Linked DNA regions of Homo sapiens. The protein of the gene in region 1 purifies or fractionates together with the protein of each later gene. This does not show direct contact. Each region holds a gene or a part of one and is shown in the gene's direction. Other genes may lie near its edges. The genes, in order: LRRFIP1, TMOD3, TCEAL2 and MCTS1.

Region 1 (4,593 bases):
TCCTTTGTAGGGACCTTTTTTTTTCTTCTCTAGTTTCTTTCAGGTTCTGTTTGTCTTTGATTTTCTACAGTTTTACTGTTAGATGTAGTTTATTGGAATCTTTCTGCTTGAGATATATAGTGTTTCTTGGATCTGTGAAGTCTTTTTAAAAATTGATTTTGGAAAATATTCAACCATTAACTCCTTAAATAATTCCTCTTTTTTAGTCTCTCCACTTTCCCCTCTGGAACTCTAATCAGAGGATGTTAGAGATTCTCATTGTCTCCACATTTTTTAACCATCTCTCTTTCATGTTTTCTATCTCCTTACCTCTCTCTATTGGATAATGCCTAAAGTTTTTGCAAAGATTTTCCAGTTCACCATTTTTTTTAAAAAGTGTCTTCATTGTTGATAGTTTCTTGCTGCATGTTCATGTATGTCCTCTTTTTAAATTGTATTCTTATTCTTTAAATATTTCATACACAGCTGTTTGGTTTTCTGTATCTGACAACTGAAACATGCTCAGTCTTTGGGGGTCTAATTCTGTCATTTATTGCTTCTGTTGACTCTCACTCAAATGGTTTGTCACCTTAGTGTTTTGTGAGCTTATGCTTGATTTTAATTTGTAGGAATAACTCCAGGCTTAACTTGTGGAAACTTCCTGCAAAAAGGGCTTGCTTCTGCCTCTGCTAGTGAGGTGGGGTCGGGACTTCTGTCCCAGGACCCAAACAAGCTTCCTTGAGTGTTTTGGGTCGAAAGCAGAGCCATAGACCCTGTTCTTGTCACCCCTCCAAAACCACGTTCTCCCAGCTTAGGGCACCCCACTCTGCCCTGCTGCCTGTGGGTCCAGATGATGCCCTGCTAATGTGGCTTCTGCAGCTCGTCTTCTGCCTGACTCTCAGGCTCCATGGCCCTGGCTCCCAGGTGTGGCCGTCTTGGCCTCAGGCATTCCTGCCTTGGACTCTGGCTGCCAGGGCTGTGGGGACCACCTTCGCCATGCAGTCCAGGCTCAGCTCTTGTTGTTTGTGTTTGTTTACCTCATGCCTCACTTACCTTTTGTGAAACCATCAGGATCCCCACTGGGCGTGTGGCTCACGCCTGTAATCCCAGCACTTTGGGAGGCCGAGGTGGGTAGATCACCTGAGGTCAGGAGTTCAAGACCAGCCTGACCAACATGGTGAAACCCCATCTCTAATAAAATACAAAAAATTAGCCAGGTGTGGTGGTGTGCACCTGTAGTCTCAGCTACTCAGGAGGCTGAGACAAGAGAATTGTTTGAACCCAGAAGGCGGAGGTTGCAGTGAGCCAAGATCACACCGTTATACTCTGGCCTGGGTGACAGAGCGAGACTTTGTCTCAAAAAAAAAAACAAACAAAAAAAGAGGCCGAGCGTGGTGGCTCATGCCTGTAATCCCAGCACTTTGGGAGGCCAAGGCGGACAGATCACGAGGTCAGGAGATCGAGACCATCCTGGCCAACATGGCAAAACCCCGTCTCTACTAAAATACAAAAAATTAACTGAGGGTGGTGGCGCACACCTGTAGTCCCGGGAGGCTGAGGCAGGGGAATCGCTTGAACCCGTGAGGCGGAGCTTGCAGTGAGCCGAGATCACGCCACTGCACTCCAGCCTGGGCGACTGAGCGAGATTCCATCTCAAGAAAAAAAAAAGAAAACCATCAGGATCCCCAAGGGTGTTCCCTCTCTGGAGTCCAGTTGTTTCAGAGGAGGAAGGGCATCATGAGGGACCAGGGGCCAAGTTATCATTTTATTTTTCAGTAGGATTGGAATTTCGGTAACACAGAACCCTGTTATGTTTGGAGGAAACAAGTTCCTTAAAGCTCACTGCCTTTCCTCCGTTCCCAGCTCCGCTCTGCATTGGATAAAACAGAAGAGCTCGAGGTGAGCAACGGCCACTTAGTGAAGCGTCTGGAAAAAATGAAAGCAAATCGGAGTGCACTCTTGTCCCAGCAGTAAATTCCAGCTCTGATCAGGCAACTGGTTGGTGACTGGAGAGCATTGTTTCATAGGCTTTTCTCTGTCCTATCTGGGAGCGCTGCTTCTTCCCCTGCCTTCCGAGAGACGAAGACCGTGGCGAGCTTGGCGCTTAGGGGCTCCCGTGCCATGGCTCACCCCAGGGAGCCCCAGCAGCCACCAGGTGCCTCTGTCTGCAGACCCCTGGCCCGGGCTGGCGCCGACGCTCAGAACCTGCAGGTACTTCATAAGCACACAGGGGCCTCGAGGGAGCTCTGTGTCTGACCGCACAGCAGCCTCTGAATGCCGCTGGAAGTGATGATCAAAGTAAAGATTCAGTTGGGACTTGAGTTTTTTTTTTTTTTCATGTGTCTTGCTGAAGATTAAGGGGAAATGTTACAGTGTTGGGACTTCCTTTCATGGCAGAATCTACAATTTGAGCGACTTCAGTAGTATCTCTTAGTCTACGCTTTTCATACACAAAACACTGTGGAACCACAAGCCATTACCAAGCAAAACTCTTTCACTGGAAACAAGGGGGCAGTCTAGAAGTAAAAGTGACCTTAAGAAGACTCTTTACAGGCAACAAATGAAGCTTTTCTAAGGGATTTTTGCATCAGTTCAGTCATAAGAATACTTTTTTCCAGGGTAATTAGGCAATAGCTTCACTGAAAATGACAGCTTTTCATTGCATTATTTAATCCTTATATTTGGAATTGAAGTCGTTAACTTCTTTTAAAGAATGTACTATTAGAAAAATTAAAAATGAAATGTTGAGAGACTTCAGCAATGTGGTTCTAATTTTTTTCCACTGAGAAAGAAGATCTTTAATTTCATATTAATGGTTCTGTATATTTTGGGTCATCTTTTTATTTTTTAAGAATATCAAGTCAATTCATTTTTCTTTCCCTATTTAAAAAAAAAGGTGTTTTCACAGAATGAGTGCACTTAAAAAGTGAAGTGAAGGAGGAGGTAACAGTAGAGACGATGGCAATATCATCAAGGACAAAAGTAAAAACGTTTAGCTACCTGCTGATTTTTAGTGACTGTTCATATATGTTGTATTTCAAGTATGGCTGGTGAAGCCAGTCAGCTTTTCGGGACGTTAGCAAGTGGAAACTGAGTCAGTATCATCCAAAACCATATCTAGTCTTAACACATGGAGAATGCTGGAGTGAGGGTTGTGAGTTCAGGGTATATAATCAAGAAAACACTCCCAGCATAATGCTAGGGGTCACCAGTGTCCATCCCCCAGAACTGTATGGATCTAGGATATACACAGCTGCGTTGCATTAAGAAAGAGATGAAATCTCTATTAAAATACACAAGATTTTTGTATCTCCTTGTGCAGAGGATATTTGCCACTGCCCATTGGGAAGCAGACAAGTTATAGGGGGCTGGGGGCCAACACTGGCAAGTAGGAAACCACGGGTCGGACAGGTGAGCAAAATGTGCTGGCAGGTGGGCACCACTGGGAGACCCACACTGCACACCCGGGCACCGTATGAACAGGAAAGAGGAAGGAAGCTGGACGAAGCCCCTCAGGGACCCTGTGCTGACCATGCTGGGCCCACCGGCAAAAGGGAGATATTCAGTTCCTTGTCTCATCCTTAAGGTTTCTTCCACAACATCTGAATACAAGCATGTTTAACTGGGAAAATGTCTATGTCATGCGTGAATAACACCAGCAGCAAACACTCACACATCACGCAGACACGGCCGGCAGCATGCTGACGCTTTTAGGTATTTTTCACTCATGCAATTTTCACATATTTTCACTCATTTCATTTGCACGGAAATTCTATGAGGTAGATGCTGTTATCAAATCCACATTACAGATGAGGGACCCAGGGTCCAGGAAGGTGAACTGGCAGAAGTCTCCCAGCTGGTAGAACAGGGCTGCAAGGCATCGATTCCCAGGTGTCTCACAGCCCTGAGAAGATGGCGTTTTCCCTATCAGTGGCTCTGAGGAAGTCAAGCCTTCAGTCTCTACCTCTCCCACCAATTCTTTTGGAAACAGCAAACCAATGTTACACACACTTCCTAATCCAGAGGAAGCTAGAACACGATTTTTAAATTTATTTAGTAAAATAAAACTTTTTTTGCAGATGTAACGAATGGAAATTGGTTGCTGGCTTCTTTCATCCCTGCAACCTAGCGTTTCTCAGCCTCAGCACGACGGTCGTCTGGAGCTGGGTCGTTCTTGGTGGCTGGGGTGGCTGTCCCCTGCACCGTGGGATGTTGAGCAGCAACACTGAACTCTACCAACTCATTGCCAGTAGACCCCACTCCCGGTCATGACACACAAAAACATCACCAGACATTGCCAAATGTCCACTGCGGGGGTGAGGGGCGTGTAAAAGCGCCTCCCATTGAGAACCACTGCTGTAACCTGAATTAGAAGATTTGGAAAAGAAATGGTTGAAAACCCAGACCAGGATCCCTGTTGTATGTTTCCTATGAATGATTTTCATTTTTAGAAATGAAATAACATCTAGGACATAGAGCAAAACACTCAAAACACATCATAAATGGATAACATAAATAGATAAAAATCCAATGCAGTTCAGAATTACAATCAAATGTTATTTTCTCTTGTGTTTTAGAATTCCTCATTTTCATAGTCAAAATATCAACTAAAGC
Region 2 (6,918 bases), on another chromosome or scaffold:
TCCCTTCCACTTATATTTTATTGACCAAAGCAAGATTCATGTTTCTAAACTTTGTGATTACAATATGACATTTAACCGAAGAGAGGAGGAAAATCCCATCATGGGATCATAGCCAAGCCTGGAATGCCTGCGGGGCAGCACTGGAAGTCACATAGTAGTGGGCAAGCCTGTCTATTCCTCTAAAGGAGAGCAAATATGTGGGAACAATATTTCAATCTACCACAGGTATTTAGTGGACTTACCTTTTCACTTATTTATGTAAATCTAATTTCCATGTTTTTCCTGTTTGTTTTCCTCCAAGAATTATGTTTCCAACTCTAAGGGAATAGTGGCAACCCTAAATTATAGCCTTTTTAAAAGAGAGCTCTGTCTCTATTTCAGGACTTTCACAGGATCTTATTCTCCTGTGTAGTCAACCCTCTTGCAGCTGGTGTTTACATCCAAATCAGGTCACTGGCTGGCATTTACAGGTGAACCTTCTGGGTCTGTGTCCCAAGAGGAGAGTAGGAGAGAGAGGGAAGAACCCAACATTCATTTATTTACAAATATTTATTGAATACTTTCTGTGTGCAGGCAGTATTGTAGATGCTAGGGATGGAGGAGTAAACAAAGCAAAGCTTGTTGAGCTTCCACTAAGGAAACAAGCAATATGAAGCTATGTGGTAAAAGTGCTATGACGACAAGTAAAGAAAGGAGAGAATGGCAGGGTAAGGTGGTAAGAGGAAGACTTTCAGAGGTAACATGTGAGCAGAACCTTCATTAAAATGAGGGCATGAGCTAGAAGCATCTGGGAGGAAAATCATTCTCCTGCACAGCATAAAGACTCTGAGATGGGGAGAAACTTGGCAGGATTAAGAAACCTCAGGGAGGCCAGTATGACTAGAGCAGTATCAGAGAGAATATGTGGTAGGAAACAAAACAATCATATACAGATTTGTAGAGGTGTTAATTATGGATTTTATTCTAAATGTGATGGAAGCCATGAACGGTTTGGAGCAAGATGGTGATATGATCTGATTTGTTTTTAAAAGATCATTCTGGGCTGGGAGTGGTAGCTCACGCGTGTAATCCCAGCACTTTGGGAGACCAAAGTGGGCAGATCACCTGAGGTCAGGAGTTCAAGACCAGCCTAGTCAACATGGCGAAACCCCGTCTCTACTAAAAAAATACAAAAATTAGCTGGGTGTGGTGGGGTGGGGGGCCTGTAATCTCAGCTACTAGGGAGGCTGAGGCAGGCAGAATTGCTTGAACCCCGGAGGCAGAGGTTGCAGTGAGCAGAGATCACGCCACTGCACTCCAGCCTGGGCGACAGACAGAGACTCCGTCTCAAAAAAAAAAAAGTCATTCTGGCTGCTAATATAGCGAATGTGTTATAGCAAAGGAGTGGAAGAAGTGAGGAAGGTTCTACCTCTTCAGTGCTATCCAATACTAAGGTATTACTCTTAACATCTCTGGCCCCATATGTGGTATTTAATGTACACGGATTTAAGAGATTCATGTTTATAAGCTTTGTGATAAAAATATGATAATGTATGCCTGAAGAAAGGAAAAAATCCACCATCAAACTGCATTATTTTAGAAAAAGGAACTAAAATAAGATGTATACATTCGTTAGGAAAAATTTGAAATGAATAGCGAAAATATATTTAATATATGCCTAACAGCCCATATTGGAAGGTGAGAGAGGAAAAGTGTAATAGATTAAGTCAGTCAGACACTGAATTAAAAAGTCTCTCTGACCAAAGCAAAAGAAGCCATATTGCAGAGGAAAGTCCTTCTTAAAATAAACCATATCAGCTGGGTATGGTGTTGCATGTCTATAATTTCAGTACTTTGGGAGGCCACGGTGGGAGGGTCCCTTGAGCCCAGGAGTTCAAGACCAGCCTGGGCAACATAGGGAGACCCTGTCTCTACAAAAAAAAAAAAATTAAAAAAATTAGTTGGGTGTGGTGGCATATGCTTGTAGTCCCAGCTGCTCAGGCTACTCAGGAGGCTGAGGTTGGAGGATTGCTTGAGCCCAGGAGGTCACGGCTGCAGCGAGCCATGATAGCACCACTTCACTACAGCCTGGGTGACAGAATGAGATTGTCTCAAAAAAAAAAAAATTGATGAGATTTAGGAGACACATCAGTCTGATCAGCAGTGGAAATCACATTAGAATTTGACTCAAGAGAACTGTGTCTCATCTCTGGATCTCCAATTACTGGCTCTGGGACCTTATACAAATTACTTAACTTTTCTGAGTCTTCATTTTCTTATCTATAGAAATGGAGGATACCAGTTTATTCTTTATAGAGTTTTGAGGACTAGATTAGTTTTGAGGATTAGATGAGATATTACAAATGAAGTGCTGGCCCAGTGGTTGGTATGTATTATAAGTATAAACATTCTTATGAACCTGAATTCTGTAGGAAATTGCTCTCAGAAAGCTGTTATCTCCAAGAGATTGACCCAAAGATGGTATAGAAAATAAAATGCAATGGCCACAAGATTGAGTGTTGACTGTCCTCTAAGTATTTGCAATTGAGAAGGGTTTTTTCCTGGCCAAGCACGGTGGCTCACGCCTGTAATCCCAGCACTTTGGGAGGCCAAGGTGGGCAGATCATGAGGTCAAGAGTTCAAGACCAGAATGGCCAACATGGTGAAAACCCATCTCTACTAGGACTACAAAAATTAGCTGGGTGTGGTGGCACGTGCCTGTAATCCCAGCTACTTGGGAGGCTGAGACAAGAGAATCACTTAAACCTGGGAGGCAGAGGTTGCAGTGAGCCGAGATCACACCACTGCACTTTAGCCTGGGCGGCAGAACAAGACTCTGTCTTGGAAAAAAAAAAAGAAGGGTTTTTTTCCCTTAAAAACCTAAACCATCAGTGATCTCCATTGCTGAAATTAGTGGGTGCCAGTTGCATGAAATTCCAGGATGTTTATCTAACCTAGGGTCCTCCCTCCTCTGAGGGGAAGAAGTAGATGCCAGGAGAGGTTTAAACCATGAAGTGGCTCGCACACTGGGTGTAGCTGGAATGTACCTCAAGCAGGCACGTCAGTCCACTTCTTTGGCTGCATTTTTGAAAGGTGTGTCAAAGTTTAGCATTATTCCTGGGGATGGTCTACTCCTGAAGAGCAGGCCAGGAAAATTCCCAGTAAGTGACTAAATGAATAAATGGAAAAATGTCGCAGTTCCCTCTCCTCAGAGCCTCGCACAAAAGGTAGCCATTACATAGGCCACTGTCAAACAGTCCTCTGAGAGATTCCCACACTCTTCCTCTTCCCTCTAGACTACCCATCTGCCCCAATCCCCCCCTTGAGCAGCCTATTCTGTTTTTTCTCCCACTACAGCAGCCAGCCCCACCGCCTGGTGTAGAGCTTGAAGATGGAAAGGGAAGATAGGATGGGCAGAAACTGCCCTGCAATAGCTACATCATCCCCGAAACGCATACCTAAGAAAACCACTAAGGTCACCACACCCTGGAGGTGACATTCGCATGATTTATGCCTCTCTTGGGCTTTAGATTTTATTCCTTTACTTTTCTATAACTCTGTCATGACCAGTTTAAAGGCCCCAATGTCATGTCCTCGCATTAACAACCAAGGCTACAATGCAAGCCCTGCCATGTGCGCTTCTTTACAAAAGGTCAAAGTAAAAAGGAAATCTATACCAAAGAGCCTCTAGATACTATTTCCAGCTTCGGGGAAGTCCATAGTAGGTACTTCCACGGGTAGAGAACATTATCTTAGACTGGGATAAGGGTTGGTATTCGCAGTCCCCTTCCTACGTTCTGCCCATTGTAAAGACCAGGGTCAGCGTTGAGCCTCGCCCTTCTTGCTAGAACTACAACTCCCAGGATGCCCCGCGGCACGGGAGTGCGCACGCGCGTCGGAGGCGAAGGAGGAACCCACCGCACCTACAGGGCGGTCGAGTGAGGGAGCTGCTGGCGGGTGGGTCTGGCAACTCTTTGGGAGGCCGACGCGGGCGGACCGGCGGGTGCTGGGAACCGAGCCTCGGCTTGCGGCCGGCAGTTTCCGTGGGTCTGTGAAGAGGTCGGCGGCCCCTGCGGGCGCCAGTCAGGTAAGCCCAGCCCGGTGCTTTCCAGGAAGTCCGTCTGCGGGCGCGGGTAGGGAGTCGCACCGGCCATGGTGGCTGAGGAGGGAGAGGTTGCTGCCCGCCGGCCGCCCGACTCCAGGCTCCTTCCCGACGGGTCCGTCTCGGGGAGCAGGGGTGCGCGGGGGCTGCTTCTGCGCGAACGGCCCGGGCGGGGGACGTGGGGCGCGCTGGGCGTCGCCCGCCGGTCTAGGCGCGCGAACCTGGCGTTCCCAGTGAATCACCCGCGGCCCGGGCGCCCGGGTTCGGGACCGGCCCCCTCCCCTCCCGCTGAGCCGCGGCCGAGCTGGCTCCCTGCACCCTACCCAGCGTCGCCGGGACGCGATCACACCGAGATGGCACCGAGCCTCCTTCAAAGGCTTCGGCTTGTTGAAAGTGGGGCGGCGGAGTGGGGGAGCCAAAACTTAGGGCACACCCTTTTTGTGATTGAAATGTGGCTGCCCTTGCATTCACCGGTTTGATCTGTCTGCTCTTAGAATTAAGTTCCTAGCTCCCAGGCAGCACAGCTGGATCCGGCTGGGAAGTTTGTGTGTTAGTTTGTTTTGAGGACGTGACTGTGTCGTTATATTTTTGCTTGCGGGGGATGGTGTGTTTCCTCCGCAAGCCTGCATTCTGATTACAAACAGAAATGGGAAACAGCCACAGTTTCTTTTTTTCTTTTTAATGTTTAGTTAAGAATCGCATTTCCAACTTGCCCTTGGCCTCTGTTAAAACCAAAAGTCATCTGGCAATGAACACTGCAGTAAAACTTACCCCAGGAGGCCATACTTCAACAGGAAATAAGCCTGTGGAGATTTAAGTTAGTTATGTGCAGCCTCCCTTGGTTTGTAACATTTTCATGCAGCTCATGTCTCCTCTCCTTTTCTGAGAAACCTTCAGATTAATTTTTTTGGCAGATTAAATTGATTAATTGGCCCGTCAAAAATATATTAGGCTTGGAAAAATAGCTTTGCCAAGTCTCATTTACTCTTGCTAGTTTCTTCTTCCTAGGCACCTTTTCACCTTTAAGAGTCAGCAATCATAATAGTTACAGTCCCCTTTCTTACACATTCCTACGAAAGGAACAAAACGAATTAAAATGTCCCAATATATTTTAATTCTTTGAGCTTTCTTTGCTTTTGCAACTCTCAGAAATTGTAGTTTGCTGATCTTTAAAATTAGGTTGTTGGACCAGATGACCCCCAAGATTATTCTGCCCCTAAATATCTCTCGTTTTTAAAAGTTCATTTATTTTGCTCATTCAGGAAACACTGGCGATATGCATTCCAAGTCCTATGATAGACATGAGAAAGAGCAAACATGAGTTCTTGAGAATGCTGTAGACCTACTGCTCAATTTTATTTAATCATATTTTTTATGATTAATTCCTAAATTTTGTGGTATATCCAATATGCCAACCTACATTGTAATTAATAACTTCATCTGAAATTAAATAGGTACAGGTCAAATCCCATTCAAAGATTTTTCGTGTCTTAATTACTGGCCCATTGAAACAAAACAGGTTTGGTACAACAGAAAGGCCCTGAATGGTGGAGGGCAGTCTTTTCAAACACTTTAGCATGCATAATTCATTCAGGATATTCTAGGTTTGAAGTAGAGTCCAAAGTCTGTATGTCTGATGGGTGATGCTGTCAGAGACCATACTTTGAATGTCAAGTGTGGGGAGGTAATTTTAGAGGTATTTTCAGGTGTTTTTAATAGCAATTTAAATACTGGTACTGATAACTGATATTAGATACATAATTGATGGCTTTTTCAACTCTCAGTTTTTTAAAATACTGTAGTCCTATGAACTCTAACAAGAACAATTGTCATCATAAGTTTTTCTCCTTCTTTCCTTTTCCTTTCTCTTTGCTAGTTTTTCTTTTTTCTCTTTGCTTTTTTTTTCTCTCCTCCTCTTCCTTCCTTAATTGTTTTCATTCACATTAATTTGGCAATTCATGAATTCAAGTATGTGTCTTGCCCCATTCTGTATTCTGTACAAAGCAATGTTTCAGGCTCCTGGTGAATATGTATAAGACATGAGGCCAGGGCCGGGCCTGGTGGCTCACACCTGTAATCCCAGCACTTTGGGAGGCCAAGGTAGGAGGATTGCTTGAACCCAGGTGTTTGAAATCAGCCTGGGCAACATAGCAAGACCCTGTCTCTACAAAATAAAATAGATTAGCCAGGTGTAGTGGTGATGCCTGTAGTCCTAGCTACTCAGGAGGCTGAGGCAGGAGGATTGCTTGAGCCCAGGAGTTTGAGGTTACAGTGAGAGACAATGATTGTGCCACTGCACTCCAGCCTGCGTGACAGAGTAAGACCCTGTCTCTCTAAAAAAAGAAAAAAAATTATATATATATATATATATATATATATATGAATGACATGGTTCCTGTCTAGGACCTTATTCTCTTTGGGATTAGGCAGATATACTTATGTATAGTCCACAGCACTTGTAAGAGCCACCTGTAGGGAATAAAAACGTGGTAGATATTCAGGAGAGATATTTTCCAGTTGCAGGAGTGGGGAACAACTAAAGTCAATATTTTTTTCCATTCACTGGTCATCTCTTTCCCCAGGCTATACTGTCTATACTGTTTGAATGTATGTGACATATCTACATAGAGTATAGTGGAATTCTGTAAATTTATTTTATTTGGAACCTGAGATGAGCCAGATACATGAACATAATTAGAACCGGATGTGGTGGCACGCTTCTGTGGTACCAGCCACTTGGGAGACTGAGGCAGGAGTACCACTTGAGCCCAAAAGTTCCAGGACAGCCTGGGCAACATAGCAAGACCCTGTCTCAAAAACTAAAACAAAAGAGAAAA
Region 3 (6,912 bases), on another chromosome or scaffold:
AAAGCAATTTGGCAAGTTCTCAAATAACTTGAAACAGAATTACCATTCAATTCAGCAGTCCCATTACTGAGTACATACCCAAAGGAATATAAATTATTCTACCATAAAGATACATGCAGGTGTACATTCATTGCAGCATTATTCACAATAGCAAATATATGGAACCAACCTAAATGCCTATCAATAGTAGACTGGATAAAGAAAATGTAGTATATATACACCATGGAATACTATATAGCCATAAAAAAGAATGAGATCGTGTCCTTTGCAGCAACATGGATGAAGCTGGAGGTCATTATCCTAAGTGAACTCACACAGGAACAGAAAACAAAATATCACATGTTCTCACATACGTGCATGCTAAACATTGAGTATATATAGATGCAAATAAGGGAACAACAGACACCAGGGCCTACTTGAAGGTGGATGGTGACGACTAAAAAATTACCTATCAGCTACTATGCTTATTACCTGGGTGATGAAATAATCTGCACACCACAACATGCAAATTACATGCAGCATGCAAATTACCCTTAAAACACACTTGTACATATACCTCTGAACCTAAAATAAAAGTAATTAAAAAAAGAACAATCACTGGACCAGTTCCACTGAATTTGTAAAATAAAACCGTCACTTCATTTCACTTTATTTCATATACTTCATCATTCATTTTGTATATTTTATGTTAAATTCTCAAGAAAAATATGTGCAATTGACCCCGAAAGAAGAGGCTTTTCAGAAGAGCATTGCAAGAAGAGGTTTTTCAGAAGAGCATTGCAAAAGAACATTGAGAGCCAGTTACATCATAGGGCTTGGATAGGTCATTTCTCCTGTGCTAACCATTTTTTTTAATAACACCTTTCATATCTATGTGGAGGTTATTGAGATTCCATCTGGGAAAAAATATGTGATAAAATTGCATATAACTAACATGCACACTCTCACACAAATAGATGTGTGTTAAACGGTGAAATATGAAAAAGGTTGTTAGAGTATATCAATATTAATTTTCTGTAGTGATACTCTACTGTAGCTACAAAAGATGTTGCCATTGGAGGAAAACAGGTAAAAGAATAAGAGAGATCTCTATTATTCCTTATAATTACAAATAAATCTACAATTATGTAAAAAAGTTTTTAAAAATGCATTGCATTCTTGTCCAGGGAGCTAAGAAAACTCACCCAATTGTACTCTTGCTATGTTCCAGTCACTGTGCCAGTGACTTTACATAAATTACCTCTAGGATAAAAGTATCTCCTGGCTTTCCCTGAACAGTCCTAATTATTTTTACCTGTTGACCTAGGATCCCATCTAGCTTAACGTTTTCCAAAATTTGTCATTTTTAAAAATGTACTCTTATTACTGATATTTATGTTAAAATAAGCCAGAATGGGTTTAGGAAACCTTTAGTTCTTAGGGCTGCTGTGACAAATAACAATTTTGTTAGCTTAAGATGATACACATTAATTCTCTTACAGTTGTGGAAGTCCAAAGTCCAAAATTAGTTTTACTAGGCTGAAGTAAAGATATTGGCAGAGCTTTGCTTCCTCTGGAGGTCCAAAAGAGACTCTATTTTCTTACATTTTCCATCGTCTGGAGTTTGCATTCCTTGCCTTTCTTGGCTCATGGCCTTTTCCTTCATCTTCTAAGTCTGTAGTGTAGAATCTTGTTTCAGTTTTCACATTGCCTTCTTCTTCCGTAGTAAAATCTCTCTCTGTTTCCCTTTTATAAGAATACTTGTTATTACATTTAGGGTCTTCCTGGATAATCCTTGGTAATCTTCCTATCTCAAGATCCTTAATGACATTTGCAAAGTCCCCTTTTGCCATATAAGGTAAAATTCACAGGTTCCAGGCATTAAGACCTGGATATCTTTGAAGGCAATTATTAAGCCTACCACAGATCTCCACTTTTTACTTCCATTTTTGCATTGTTTTTGTCTGGTAGTGTGTGAGACATCCTTGTCTTGTTCTGGTTCTCAAGGGGAATGCTTCCAGCTTCTGCCCATTCAGTATAATGTTGGCTGTGGATTTGTTATACATGGCTCTTGTTATTTTGAGGTACATTCCTTCAACACCTAGTTTATGGAGAGTTTTTAACATGAAGGGATGTTGAATTTTATCCATAGCCTTTTCTGCATCTACTGAGATGATCATGTGGCTTTTGTCTTTAGTTCTGTTTATGTGATGAATCACATTTATTGATTTGTGTATATTGAGCTAAACTTGCATCCTGGAGATGGATCCTACTTGATCATGGTGGATACATTTTTTGACATGCTACTGTATTCAGTTTGCCACTATTTTGTTGAGGATTTTTGCATCCATGTTAATTAAGGATATTGGCCTGAAGTTTCCTTTTTGTGTGTGTGTCTCTGCCAGGTGTTGGTATCACTTAGTGATTTTATAGTGTTAATATATGTCTATATTTATTTTACTGATGGGAATGATACTTTTATTCTGCAATAAGAAACAAAAGGTCTCTAGTGAATGGTATGTTCAGTAATGTTACTTTTCTAAGAAAGTGGATGACAAACATTTAACTTAAAATATGTTTAATCAACATATACTATGCATCAAGAGAACTGTCATTATATCTTCTTCCAAAGGTAGTAATTACTTGAGGAACAATGTGTCAATTTATTACATGCAAATGCAAAAGTTGTGTTGACTTCTCATTTTGTGAACAGATCTTTTAATTTAGATAAAATGACATTTCTTCAAATTTAATGATACTAATTTTGAATCCCACATTTTTGTGTATATGTTTTAAAAGAGGAGAAATAGTTGTTAATACTTTGGCTCCATTAGCAAAATAACTTAGCAAATAGTTACTGAAGACAGCTTAAAATCACTATAATTAGATGATTAAAACAGAAAATCAGTTCTTTTCAACTGATTTGATATTATTTTCATCAAATTCTTGAATAATTATAATAATTTTATGGAAGTTTATACTGATGAAATTGAAACACCTAGCCTCGATAATTCAGGAAAAAAATTCAACATTGAGGACAGAATTATTGGTGATGTGGTGATAATGACGAATACACATATTGATAGAGCAAAATACTGTAGGAAGATCAAGGTTTTACTAAATGAAGAAAGATGTGTAGCAGAAATATAATCAGAATTGCTTGTGTAACACACATAATTCATAATCCTGTAATCATGATAAGGTATTTTGCAAATCAAAATAAAAATAGTTGTTGCCCAGATATACACAAGACATACACATACATATGTACACACATATACATCTATACATATATGTGTGTATAAATAAACATGTGTATATATACATATACATGTCACTATACTGTAGAAGCTAAAATATTGGTGATTCTTAGTTTTTGTGGGTGGTGGCTTCACGAATGTGAAAGAAAAGGAAAGAAAAAAAAGACAAAGGATGGGAAGGGGAGGAAATAATAGGACGGGAAAGAAAAGGGAAGGAAGAGGGACAAGCAGGGATCGATGATAAGGGTGTGTTGTAAACCAAGGACTATGATGAATTTGTGCATCTGAAATTCATATTTAAAATGTTTTAATGCTTTCTTTTCTACCTGTCTGACATTCTCTCTCTATGAAAACTGATCAAATGTTGGAAGGTAAGTTTCAAGTGTGGAGAGAGACCAAGGGAGATGGCAAGAAGGAAGTTGGTAAATCAATTTGGGGTACACGGGCTTTGGGGTCCCTCAGGGACACTCAGGCGGTGATGTCCAATAGACAGTTGGCAAAGCTGATATGAGACACGGAGAAGGGAACAGCCTGGAGCTGTAGATCTGGGAGTCATCGGTGTTTACTGGAAATGAATGAGATCACACAGGGAGAGACAACTTGAGGACTGAGGAGAGAGGAGGCCCAGGACAGAACCCCAGGAACACCGCCACTCAAGGTGGCAGCTCAGCTTCCTGGCAGGCACCACTACCCCCCGGGCTCTGGAGTCAGGCAGAGCCGGTATTGAAAGTGGGCTGTGGAGTTCTGGGGCTGAGCGCTCTTGGCAAAGTCCGGTACCTCTATGATCAGCTGTCACACCTGGCGATAATGGGCATCAGAGAGATATGCCTTGCGAGGATGCTGTGAGCTGCGTCAGGTAAAGCACCTAGGGTCAGAAAGCCACCTCTCCTCCTCTTCTCCGCGACCCCACTTTGCTACACAAACGCACCGAGACTCCGACCGTCCCCAGCCTCCGGTCCCTCAGGGATGGAAGGTGAGGTATGTCAGGAAAGAGAGGGGGGCCCAGCTCCAAGGTGAGGTGTGTCAGGCAAGAGCGGGGGCAGAGCTCCGGTGACGCGGTGCTCACGTGACCCGCCCGGCGCCTACGTGGGCACCAGCCCCCGCGCCCGCCCGCCAGCCCGCCCAGCGGTCGGGTCCGGGCGCCCGCGCAGAATCAGCTGTCTGAGCTGCCCAGGCGGCGGGGGAGCAGCGAGCGGGCTTCAGCGAGCCGCAGGAGGCACAGGCCTGTCCTGGGTCCCCGCAGGTCAGTGTGAAGGCGTGCGCTGCCGGCGGACCCTGGGACAGGGGTGGAGGGGGCTGGCAGTAGGATTGGGGAGGGGGCGGAGAAGGGATCCGGTAGATTGGGGAGGAGGGGGATGCGGAGTCGCGGGGGCGGGGGCAGTGGAGGGAGAACCCCCGAAGCAAGCCTGGCTCGCCTTCTCGACGCCCCCTTGCACTGAGTCCTCCATCCATTTTAGTGCTGGAAATGGGGGGTGGGGGTAGCGACCCCGCAGTGCGACAGTGAAACGTAGACATATTCTGGAAATAACCCCTTCTCACAATCTACACCCATGGAAACACTTGATCTCCGCAAAAATGAGGTGGCGCTGGGGCAGGTTGCCTCCGGGGAAGGGGGACACAGAGACAAACGCAGTTTGGAAAGCATCCTGGTTTGGTGCCCGAGGCCTGGAAAGAAATGGCGGCTGGGGTGCGGGGGAGGTAGGGGAGGAAAACGGTGGGTAAGCAGGGCCTGGACTCAGGAAAGGGAACCGAGTCCCTGTGAGCCCGCTAAGCGCGCAGCCCCTGCCCCTGTCTCCTGTCTGTCCGCAGGTCTGCGCGTCTGTTGTTCCCAGCGCTCTGAGAGGCCTGAAAAGGAAGAGCAACCTGTCCAGAATCCCCGCAGGTCCGTGAAAGCAGGGGGCTGCATGGACAGGGGCCCACAAGGGTTGAGAGTGTGGAGGGCACAGTCAGGGCCGAATTGGGGCCCCTGCCCATCCCCTTACCTACATGAACACACACCTTACCAGGCTGAACCAGTGCAGAGAAGGTGGCAGGGCCTGCCAGGGAACAGCTGGCTCACGTGTGTGGGAGGAGTGGTGGGCTACGTGGTGGGCAGAAGGCCCTCTTGGAGGCCCAGTCAGCTTAGGGGAACCCTCACCAGGGGTGAGATGCAAGTAGTATCCAGACCTGCATTCCACCCCATGCCCTCAGTCTCCCATGTCTCCTCTTTGTCTCCTCTTCCCTCCACACCCATCCCCCAGGAAAGGAAAAGGAGGGGAAATCTCGACATGGAAAAACTCTTCAATGAAAATGAAGGAATGCCTTCGAATCAAGGAAAGATAGACAATGAAGAACAGCCACCGCACGAGGGAAAGCCAGAAGTAGCTTGTATTCTGGAAGACAAGAAGTTAGAAAACGAGGGAAACACAGAAAACACGGGCAAGAGAGTTGAGGAACCGTTAAAGGATAAAGAAAAGCCAGAGAGTGCGGGAAAGGCAAAAGGAGAAGGAAAGTCAGAGAGGAAGGGAAAGTCAGAGATGCAGGGAGGATCAAAGACAGAGGGAAAGCCAGAGAGAGGGGGAAGGGCAGAGGGTGAAGGAGAGCCAGACAGTGAAAGAGAGCCAGAGAGTGAGGGAGAGCCAGAAAGTGAAACAAGGGCTGCAGGAAAGCGCCCAGCTGAGGATGATATACCCAGGAAAGCCAAAAGAAAAACCAACAAGGGGCTGGCTCAGTACCTCAAGCAATATAAGGAAGCCATACATGATATGAATTTCAGCAATGAGGACATGATAAGAGAATTTGACAACATGGCTAGGGTGGAGGATAAAAGGAGAAAAAGCAAACAGAAATTGGGGGCGTTTTTGTGGATGCAAAGAAATTTACAGGACCCCTTCTATCCTAGGGGTCCAAGGGAATTCAGGGGTGGCTGCAGGGCCCCACGAAGGGACACTGAAGACATTCCTTATGTGTAGTGTCCCTGGCAGGCATTTGTCAGGCCATATGTTTTAACCTTATGGTAATACTTTGCTTTAGTCGTTCCTCCTGCTACCAGTAGCGTTTTGACCCACCTGCCAGTGTTTGCTTGCTCTATGTTTCAGTAGCAGATTTTCACACATGTGCATTGCAGAGACGTCATGATTCGTGGAAAAATAAAGCAGCTTATAATATCATCTACAGAATCTGTCTGTTTTTGTTAAATACATGAAAGGTTAACAGTGGTTTTCTGAGTTGTGAGCTAGCAGGTGATTTCATTTCTTTGTTTTCTTTCTACTAATCTTTCTTTTCCCAGAGAACACAAATTACTTTTCTCACAAAAATAATAAAATATTTTTAAAAAATCAGAACAGTATGTAAAAAGCAAAGAGAATAACTGTCCAGTGAACTTATGAAGTTCAGTAGAGACACTTAACGTTCTTGTTGTCAGAACTTAAAATGATAGGTAAAATTCACATTACCTACCTGTGGGACTCATCTGGAGAAGTCAATCTGGGGTTATTACAGATCCATTGCTCTAACGGACAGTCTTTTCATTTGTCAAATAGAGATAATACCTTGCTTTTCAGAACTGCTGAGTGGGTTGGATAAGGTAGAGAATATATTTGTTGGGTTGGCATCTACCTTCTCCCCTGCTCTAGCAGAAAAAAATACCCCCTCAGACACTTGGAAGAGGACTAGGGTAAATCTTACCTGTGTC
Region 4 (7,036 bases), on another chromosome or scaffold:
TGTAAATGCATTTTTTTTTAAAATTGGGCTCTCTGTTACATAGTTTTTAAAAATTGATACGTCATAGCTGTACATTGTCTGCTGTTGTGGTGCCTGTATCCCCCACCACCTATATATATTTATAATAGTTGTACATATTTTAGGGGTACATGTGATATTTGATACCTTTATACAGCGTGTAATGATCAAATCAGGGTAATTAGGGTATCTGTCACCTCAAACGTTTATCTTTGTGTTGAGAAGATTACAATTCTTCTAGCTATTTTGAAATATAGAGTAAATCATTGTTAAATATAATTTCCTTATTGTACTCTCGAATACTAGAACTTATCGACCTGTATTTTTATACCCCTTAACCAACTTCTCCTCATCCCCTTGTAGTTTTTTTTTAAATTAACAGGCTTTTATTTTTTAGAGCAGTTTTAGGTTTCCAGAAAAAGTAAGCAGAAAGAATAGAGTTCCCTCTCCCCAGTTCAGATTCCCCTATGAATAACATCTTGTTTTGGAATGATACATTTGTAACAATTGAACCAGCATTGATACATTATTATTAACGCAAGTCCTTAGTTTACATTAGGGTTTACTCTTTGTATTCTACAGTTTTATGGTTTTTCCCAAATACATGTCAAGTATCTACTGTTAAAGTATCATACAGAATGGTTTTACTGGCCTAACATCCTTTGTGCTCCACCTATTCATCCTTCCTCCCCCCACTTCCCCAACCCCAGGTAACCACTGATCTTTTTAATCGTTTTTTTACTCTGCGTTTTTCACTTAACATTATATCACAAAAATTTCCCAGGGCATATTAAGTAGTCTCCAAAAACCATAGTTTTGAAATTACGGTTTTTGGAGAATACTTGGGATGCTGAGGCGGGAAGATTGCATGAGTCCAAGAGTTCAAGGTTATTGTGAGGTATTGATTGCTCCACTGTACTCCAGCCTGGGTGGCAGAGCAAGACCCTGTCTCAAAAAAACAAACAAAAAAGATTACCAATTTGGTAAACAAATGATAGTGTTTCAGAGTTTTCTTTTGTATCTGTCAGATTAATTTGGGGAAATACTGTTCAGATCCTTTGCCTTTTTCTGTTGAGTCATTAGTCTTATTATTAATATATTGTATATCTTTTCTTACAGATCCTTTTATCCTGCCACACCAGCAGGTTGATAAAGGAGCCATCAAATTTGTACTCAGTGGAGCAAATATCATGTGTCCAGGCTTAACTTCTCCTGGAGCTAAGCTTTACCCTGCTGCAGTAGATACCATTGTTGTATCCTTCCCAGGCTAAAACTGCTGAAAAATGTATTCATTGTGCTCTTATCATTACTGCGAAAGGTGTACCATCCAAGAGAACATTAGATGTACTTTTTTGAAGGTTACTGTTACTCTTATCTCATGCCTTTCTGGTTACATTTGAAGTTGTACAAAGTAATTTTATTTGTTGCTACTAAATTATCTCATCTTAGGTCGTTTCTTAGAAGTTAAATGAGAACAAGTTACAGAAGAGTCTCAGCTGCATTTCAGCCCAGTCAGGGCCTACTGTTATCAGACTTAGGACACAATAGGGAATTCTTGATTACTAGGGGAAAGGATATAGATGATATAATTGGATCAGCTTTTTGGATATCAACTTGCCACTGTAATGTTCATTTTGACTTACTGACATACGTTGGAGTGAAAGCTCTCAAAAGGGAAAAGAATTTAGGCACCAGGTATAGGTATCTCTTACCAAGCAACAATTTTGTGTTAGGAGTGAATAGTGGGAAATATTGGCAACCTCCAACTTTTATTTTGAAAATTAATTATTTGAAAAGTTGAGTTTGGGGGCCTCAGAGCACGTTTTCTCAAAGAGAAATGTCAGAGTCCCAGATGGTCCTTAAAGATCGATTCAACTCATGACATAGCTGAATAATTCTGCATTATTTCCATTTCTACCATGCTGTTTCAGCTATTTTCTGGATTAAATAGATTTTTGTGACTATTCTGGACAGGAGAACATCTTCTCCTTTATCATAGCTAAAGTAGCCATTTGCCTCGGGTATAGAAAAGGAATGGTACTTGGTGGGAATAGGGAAACTACTTTTAGAGTGTGTTTATCTTATTTTAGTTTTTGAGATGGAGTCTCGCTCTGTCGTCCAAGCTGGAGTGCAGTGGCACGATCTTGTCTCACTGCAACATCTGCCTCCTGGGTTCAAGCAATTCTCCTGCCTCAGCCCCTCGAGTAGCTGAGGTTACAGGCACCCACTACCACGCCCGGCTCATTTTTGTATTTTTAGTAGAGACAGGGTTTCACCATGTTGGTCAGGCTAGTCTCAAACTCCTGACCTCAGGTGATCCACCCGCTTTGGCCTCCCAAAGTGCTGGGATTACAGGTGTGAGCCACCACACCTGGCCAGGGGTGTGTTTAAGAAGAATAAGAAAAAAAAATGATATTCTCTGTTGGGGCAGTTATAGCGAAGAGGTAGTATAAGTAGTATGTTTATATTCTAGGAACAGCTTATGTTGACATGCTTTTTGCCTAATAGGTGCTCACATATTTGGAACACTGAGTGAATTGAAAATCAAGGGAGAAAAGTGAGGACGGGTTTTTTGTTGTTGTTGTTTGTTTTTAATATTTATTAAGTGTTGGTAAATTTATAGTTCTGGAGTTAACCTTAAATGGAAAATTTCCTTAGTACCTAGTCTTTACTTTTAAAAATAATTTTTATTTTGAAACAGTTACAGATTTAGAGAAAGTTGTTAAAGAAAATGGTACAGAGAGGTCTTGTGTACCCTGAATCTTGACTTTTTAAAATATGTACTGCAGTGTTTAACATTCCAGAAACTTCATATGTTAACCAAGACCACTCTGGTTTTTCTAGAAAGGTTGAAACTGTTATATCAGGCTCTTAAAGATAGACTGGGAATTTACCTATTATTTTAAAACAGCCTTTACATAAAACCACCATTCAGGCCGGGTGTGGTGGCTCATGCCTGTAATCCCAGCACTTTAGGAGGCTGAGGCGGGCAGATCACCTGAGGTCAGGAGTTCGAGACAAGCCTGGCCAACATGACGAAACCCTGTCTGTACTAAAAATACAAAAATTAGCTGGGTGGGGTGGCATGCGCCTGTAATCCCATCTACTAGGGAGGTTGAGGCAGGAGAATTGCTTGAACTCAGGAGGCAGAAGTTGCAGTGAGCTGAGATCATGCCACTGCACTCCAGCCGGGTGACAAAGCAAGACTCCATCTCAAAAAAACAAACGGCCGGCTATGGTGGCTCACGCCTATAATGCCACCACTTTGGGAGGCTGAGGCAGGCGGATCATGAGGTCAGGAGTTCAAGACCAGCCTGGCCAACATGGTGAAATCCCATCTCTACTAAAAATACAAAAATTAGCTGGGTGTGGTGGCACACGCCTGTAGCACCAGCTACTCGGGAGGCTGAGGCAGGAGAATTGCTTGAACCCGGGAGGCAGAGGTTGCAATGAGCCAAGACTGCGCCATTGCACTCCAGCCTGGGCAACAGAGTGAGACTCTGTCTCAAGAACAAACAAAAATCCCCACTAGTCAGTGATCAGAATAATTAATCAGAACAATTAATATTTATTGATTTCACAGTTTTTAGTATTTATGTGCAAGAAATTTTACTCCTTTTTTGTGTGACTTATTCTGGTTTTGTTAGCATGGGGTTATAGTATTAACATTTGACTTGAAAGAAAAGGGGTTATTAGATTTATTCATTTAGCATTTACTGAGTATTTACAGTGTACCCACAGACTCTGCTAGGTCTCTGCTCTCAAGGAGTTAATGGTCTAGGAGAAGACACAAGAGGGGTTCCAAGTGGCTTAACTAGTAACATGATCATTATTTGACACCCTTCCCTTGATGGGGAGGCCCCAAGGCATTTTGATAAATAGTTTTCTTAGCTGTGTTCTTTCAGGCTATCATGGCAGAAGGAAAACAGCATGCTCTATGTGTTGGAGTCATGAAGATGTCTGCAGAAGACATGTAAGTCTTACTTTAGGCCCCCTTAACTTTTGATATATGGGTAACCAACCCAGGAAGCATCAGAATTACAGGTGAAATTTGCTATCATGCATACCACATTACACAAATATCCAAGCACAGAAGCTTCATTTCTGATATTTCCTAACACTTAGGAAGCCAATGAAACCTATTTTGTCTTCAGGATTGTAGTCTTTCTTAAGCACTGAAAAGAACCCATGTGCCAACACAGCTGTTTTATATGTGTGTACGTGGTACTTTAGGAATCTTATTTAGTATCATTTAAATTGGGGGAGGAGGGAAGATGTTTTACTGCTAGCTTCATTTTATTTATTTTTATTTTTATTTTTTTAAGTTTTTTTGAGATGGAGTCTCACTCTGTTGCCCAGGCTGGAGTGCAGTGGCGCGATCCCGCCTCACTGCAACCTCTGCCTCCCAGGTTCAAGCGATTCTTGTGCCTCAGCCTTCCAAGTAGTTGGGATTACAGGTGTGCGCCATAATGTCCAGCTAATTTTTGTATTTTTAGTAGAGATGGGGTTTCACCATGTTGGCCAGGCCAGTCTCGAACTCCTGACCTCAAGTGATCCACCCACCTCGGCCTCCCAAAGTGTTGGGATTACAGGTGTGAGCCACTGCACCTGGTCATTACTGCTAGTTTTAAAAACAGTGATATATCTCACCACCACACAGTATCTTATATCCTGACCTGGTAATACAAGAAATGTAGAATATTTAGAGAACTAGTAAAGATATATTATCAAAACATAGGCAGTATATTTAAAAATTTTAGAACCCATTTGATGACCAAATTAGTGGTATTAATTTTGTTTCAGGGTTAATGTAGCACTTTGATATTCCCCTAGTCTTGTGACATTGTTACTCTGGTTCTATAGACCCACTAGTTAGATCACTAAAATCACTTTTAGATATGAGCTGCCACAGAGTAATGTAGTTTAATATAAACAACAATGTAATTGTGATGTCAATAAGTTCTTTACTTGTGGCTTAATAATTAAAAAATAACAATATACTTTGAATTATATTTATCACGAGTAAGACTATAAAAATGCATAAAAGTATGTTTATGTGTTTTTTTTCCTTCTACAGTGAGAAAGTCAACAAAGGAATTGGCATTGAAAATATCCATTATTTAAATGATGGGCTGTGGCATATGAAGACATATAAATGAGCCTCAGAAGGAATGCACTTGGGCTAAATATGGATATTGTGCTGTATCTGTGTTTGTGTCTGTGTGTGACAGCATGAAGATAATGCCTGTGGTTATGCTGAATAAATTCACCAGATGCTAAAATTCTGTTAGCTTCAGAAATTATTTTAAGTTTTCTTAAACTCAAGTTAAAATTGGGTAGCAAACTTGGACATTAAAAGGTATCTGGTAAGTAAGCAAACTCATACAACTAATGTCCTTTCTTAGGCTAATGATATAAGAGTGAAGAGCAGGACTTGGTCAATGGATTGCCATTTTATGGTAGACCTCTAGAGAAACTGTCTAGTTAAATGGGGCTAGAAACTAGACTAGGAATTTTATTCTATTACTCCAGGGGACCCAGCAGTGCTCATTCTCGTGTGTGTGTGTGTGTGTGTGTGTGTATGTGTGTGTGTGTGTGTGTGTGTGTTTTGTTGATTGTTTTTTTAAAAAAAACTTCAATGGAAAATTCTAAACATATTAAGAAGTCTGGAGAATAGTATAATGGACCTCTCCATATCCATCACCCAGTTTCAGTTTATGGTCAGTCTTATTTCATCTATACCTCAATTATTTCTCCCCACCCCCCAATTATTTTGAAGCAAATCCCAGACATCCTATCATTTCATCCATAACTACTTTATTCTTTTTTTTTTTTTTTTGAAACAGGGTCTTGCTCTGTTGCCCAGGCTGGAGTGCAGTGGTACGATCTTGGCTCACTGTAACCTCCACCTCCCGGGTTCAAGCGATTCTTGTGCCTCAGCCTCCTGAGTAGCTGGGATTACAGGCACGTGCCACCATGCCCGGCTAATTTTGTATTTTTGGTAGAGATGGGGTTTCGCTATGTTGGCCAGACTGGTCTTGAACTCTTGGCCTCAAGTGATCCGTCCCCCTCTGCCTCCCAAAGTGCTGGGATTACAGGCATGAGCCACCGTGCCCAGCTAATTTTTATATATTTTATAGTTGGCCAGGCTGGTCTTGAACTCCTGGCCTCAAGTGATCAGCCTCCCAAAGTGCTGGGATTATAGGCATGAGTCACCATGCCTGGCGTCATAACTACTTTAGTGTGTATCTTTAAAAATTAGAAAAACCCCACAATACCATTATCACACCTAAAAAGTTGAACTGTTTCTTAATATGATCAACTGTCTAGACTGTTAATTCTCTTTAACTGTTGGTTTGCTTGAAATAGGTACCACACAAGGTTCATACATTGCATTTGGTTGTTATTTATTGAAGTCTGTTTAATTTATAAGTTACCTTTTCTTTTCCCCCTTAAATTATTTAAGAAATCTAGTTGTTTTGTCTTTAAAGTTTCCACACATATTCTGGATTTTGTTGATTGTATCACTGTGAAGTCATTAACTTGTTTTTATGCCTCCTGTATATCCTGTAAACAAATAAGATTGATCAGATTCAGGTTCAGTTTTTTTAGTGCCTTCTTTTGAGTAAAGTCATACCAAACAGATGCCCAGAACATCTGGATTTGGGTCCCCACTAGACTCCTTAAATAATGTATATCTTCTATAAGTGGAATATGAGGGACATGGACCTGCTTTAGTAAGAACAGTAATCTGTTTGGGGAGTTAAAAGAGCAGTTGTGGATTTATTTATTGATAAAGACCATTTTTCTTCCTAATAACCTTGCTGTTATTCTAGTGTCTTAGCCATCTTCATTTGGTTGTTTACCAATATATGACATGTGATTTTATTTTTCAGATGGATACAGACATATACAAGATTGTGGTGACCTGTGTTACAGTTAGAAGTTGGTGAGAAAGGTGAGGGTGGATAGCAAAAAGAGAGAGATCATTTGGCTGGCTGTTCCAGCTGGGTCTCCC

Evidence for each region.
Region 2: the proteins of LRRFIP1 (region 1) and TMOD3 purify together in Homo sapiens (affinity purification with mass spectrometry; 2 studies listed by BioGRID and IntAct, with this or other methods). This does not show direct contact.
Region 3: the proteins of LRRFIP1 (region 1) and TCEAL2 purify together in Homo sapiens (affinity purification with mass spectrometry; 2 studies listed by BioGRID and IntAct, with this or other methods). This does not show direct contact.
Region 4: the proteins of LRRFIP1 (region 1) and MCTS1 purify together in Homo sapiens (affinity purification with mass spectrometry; 2 studies listed by BioGRID and IntAct, with this or other methods). This does not show direct contact.

Annotation. Positions count from the first base shown.
Region 1 is NC_000002.12:237,777,580-237,782,172, forward strand, and holds the end of LRRFIP1 (leucine-rich repeat flightless-interacting protein 1), read left to right. Parts: intron 1-1,842; coding exon 1,843-1,953; 3' UTR 1,954-4,064; downstream 4,065-4,593.
Region 2 is NC_000015.10:51,825,771-51,832,688, forward strand, and holds the start of TMOD3 (tropomodulin-3), read left to right. Parts: upstream 1-3,882; 5' UTR 3,883-4,066; intron 4,067-6,918. UniProt on the Homo sapiens protein: Blocks the elongation and depolymerization of the actin filaments at the pointed end. The Tmod/TM complex contributes to the formation of the short actin protofilament, which in turn defines the geometry of the membrane skeleton.
Region 3 is NC_000023.11:102,121,325-102,128,236, forward strand, and holds TCEAL2 (transcription elongation factor A protein-like 2), read left to right. Parts: upstream 1-4,354; 5' UTR 4,355-4,482; intron 4,483-5,048; 5' UTR 5,049-5,121; intron 5,122-5,479; 5' UTR 5,480-5,506; coding exon 5,507-6,190; 3' UTR 6,191-6,388; downstream 6,389-6,912. UniProt on the Homo sapiens protein: May be involved in transcriptional regulation.
Region 4 is NC_000023.11:120,607,088-120,614,123, forward strand, and holds part of MCTS1 (malignant T-cell-amplified sequence 1), read left to right. Parts: intron 1-1,137; coding exon 1,138-1,271; intron 1,272-3,923; coding exon 3,924-3,991; intron 3,992-5,095; coding exon 5,096-5,177; 3' UTR 5,178-7,036. UniProt on the Homo sapiens protein: Translation regulator forming a complex with DENR to promote translation reinitiation.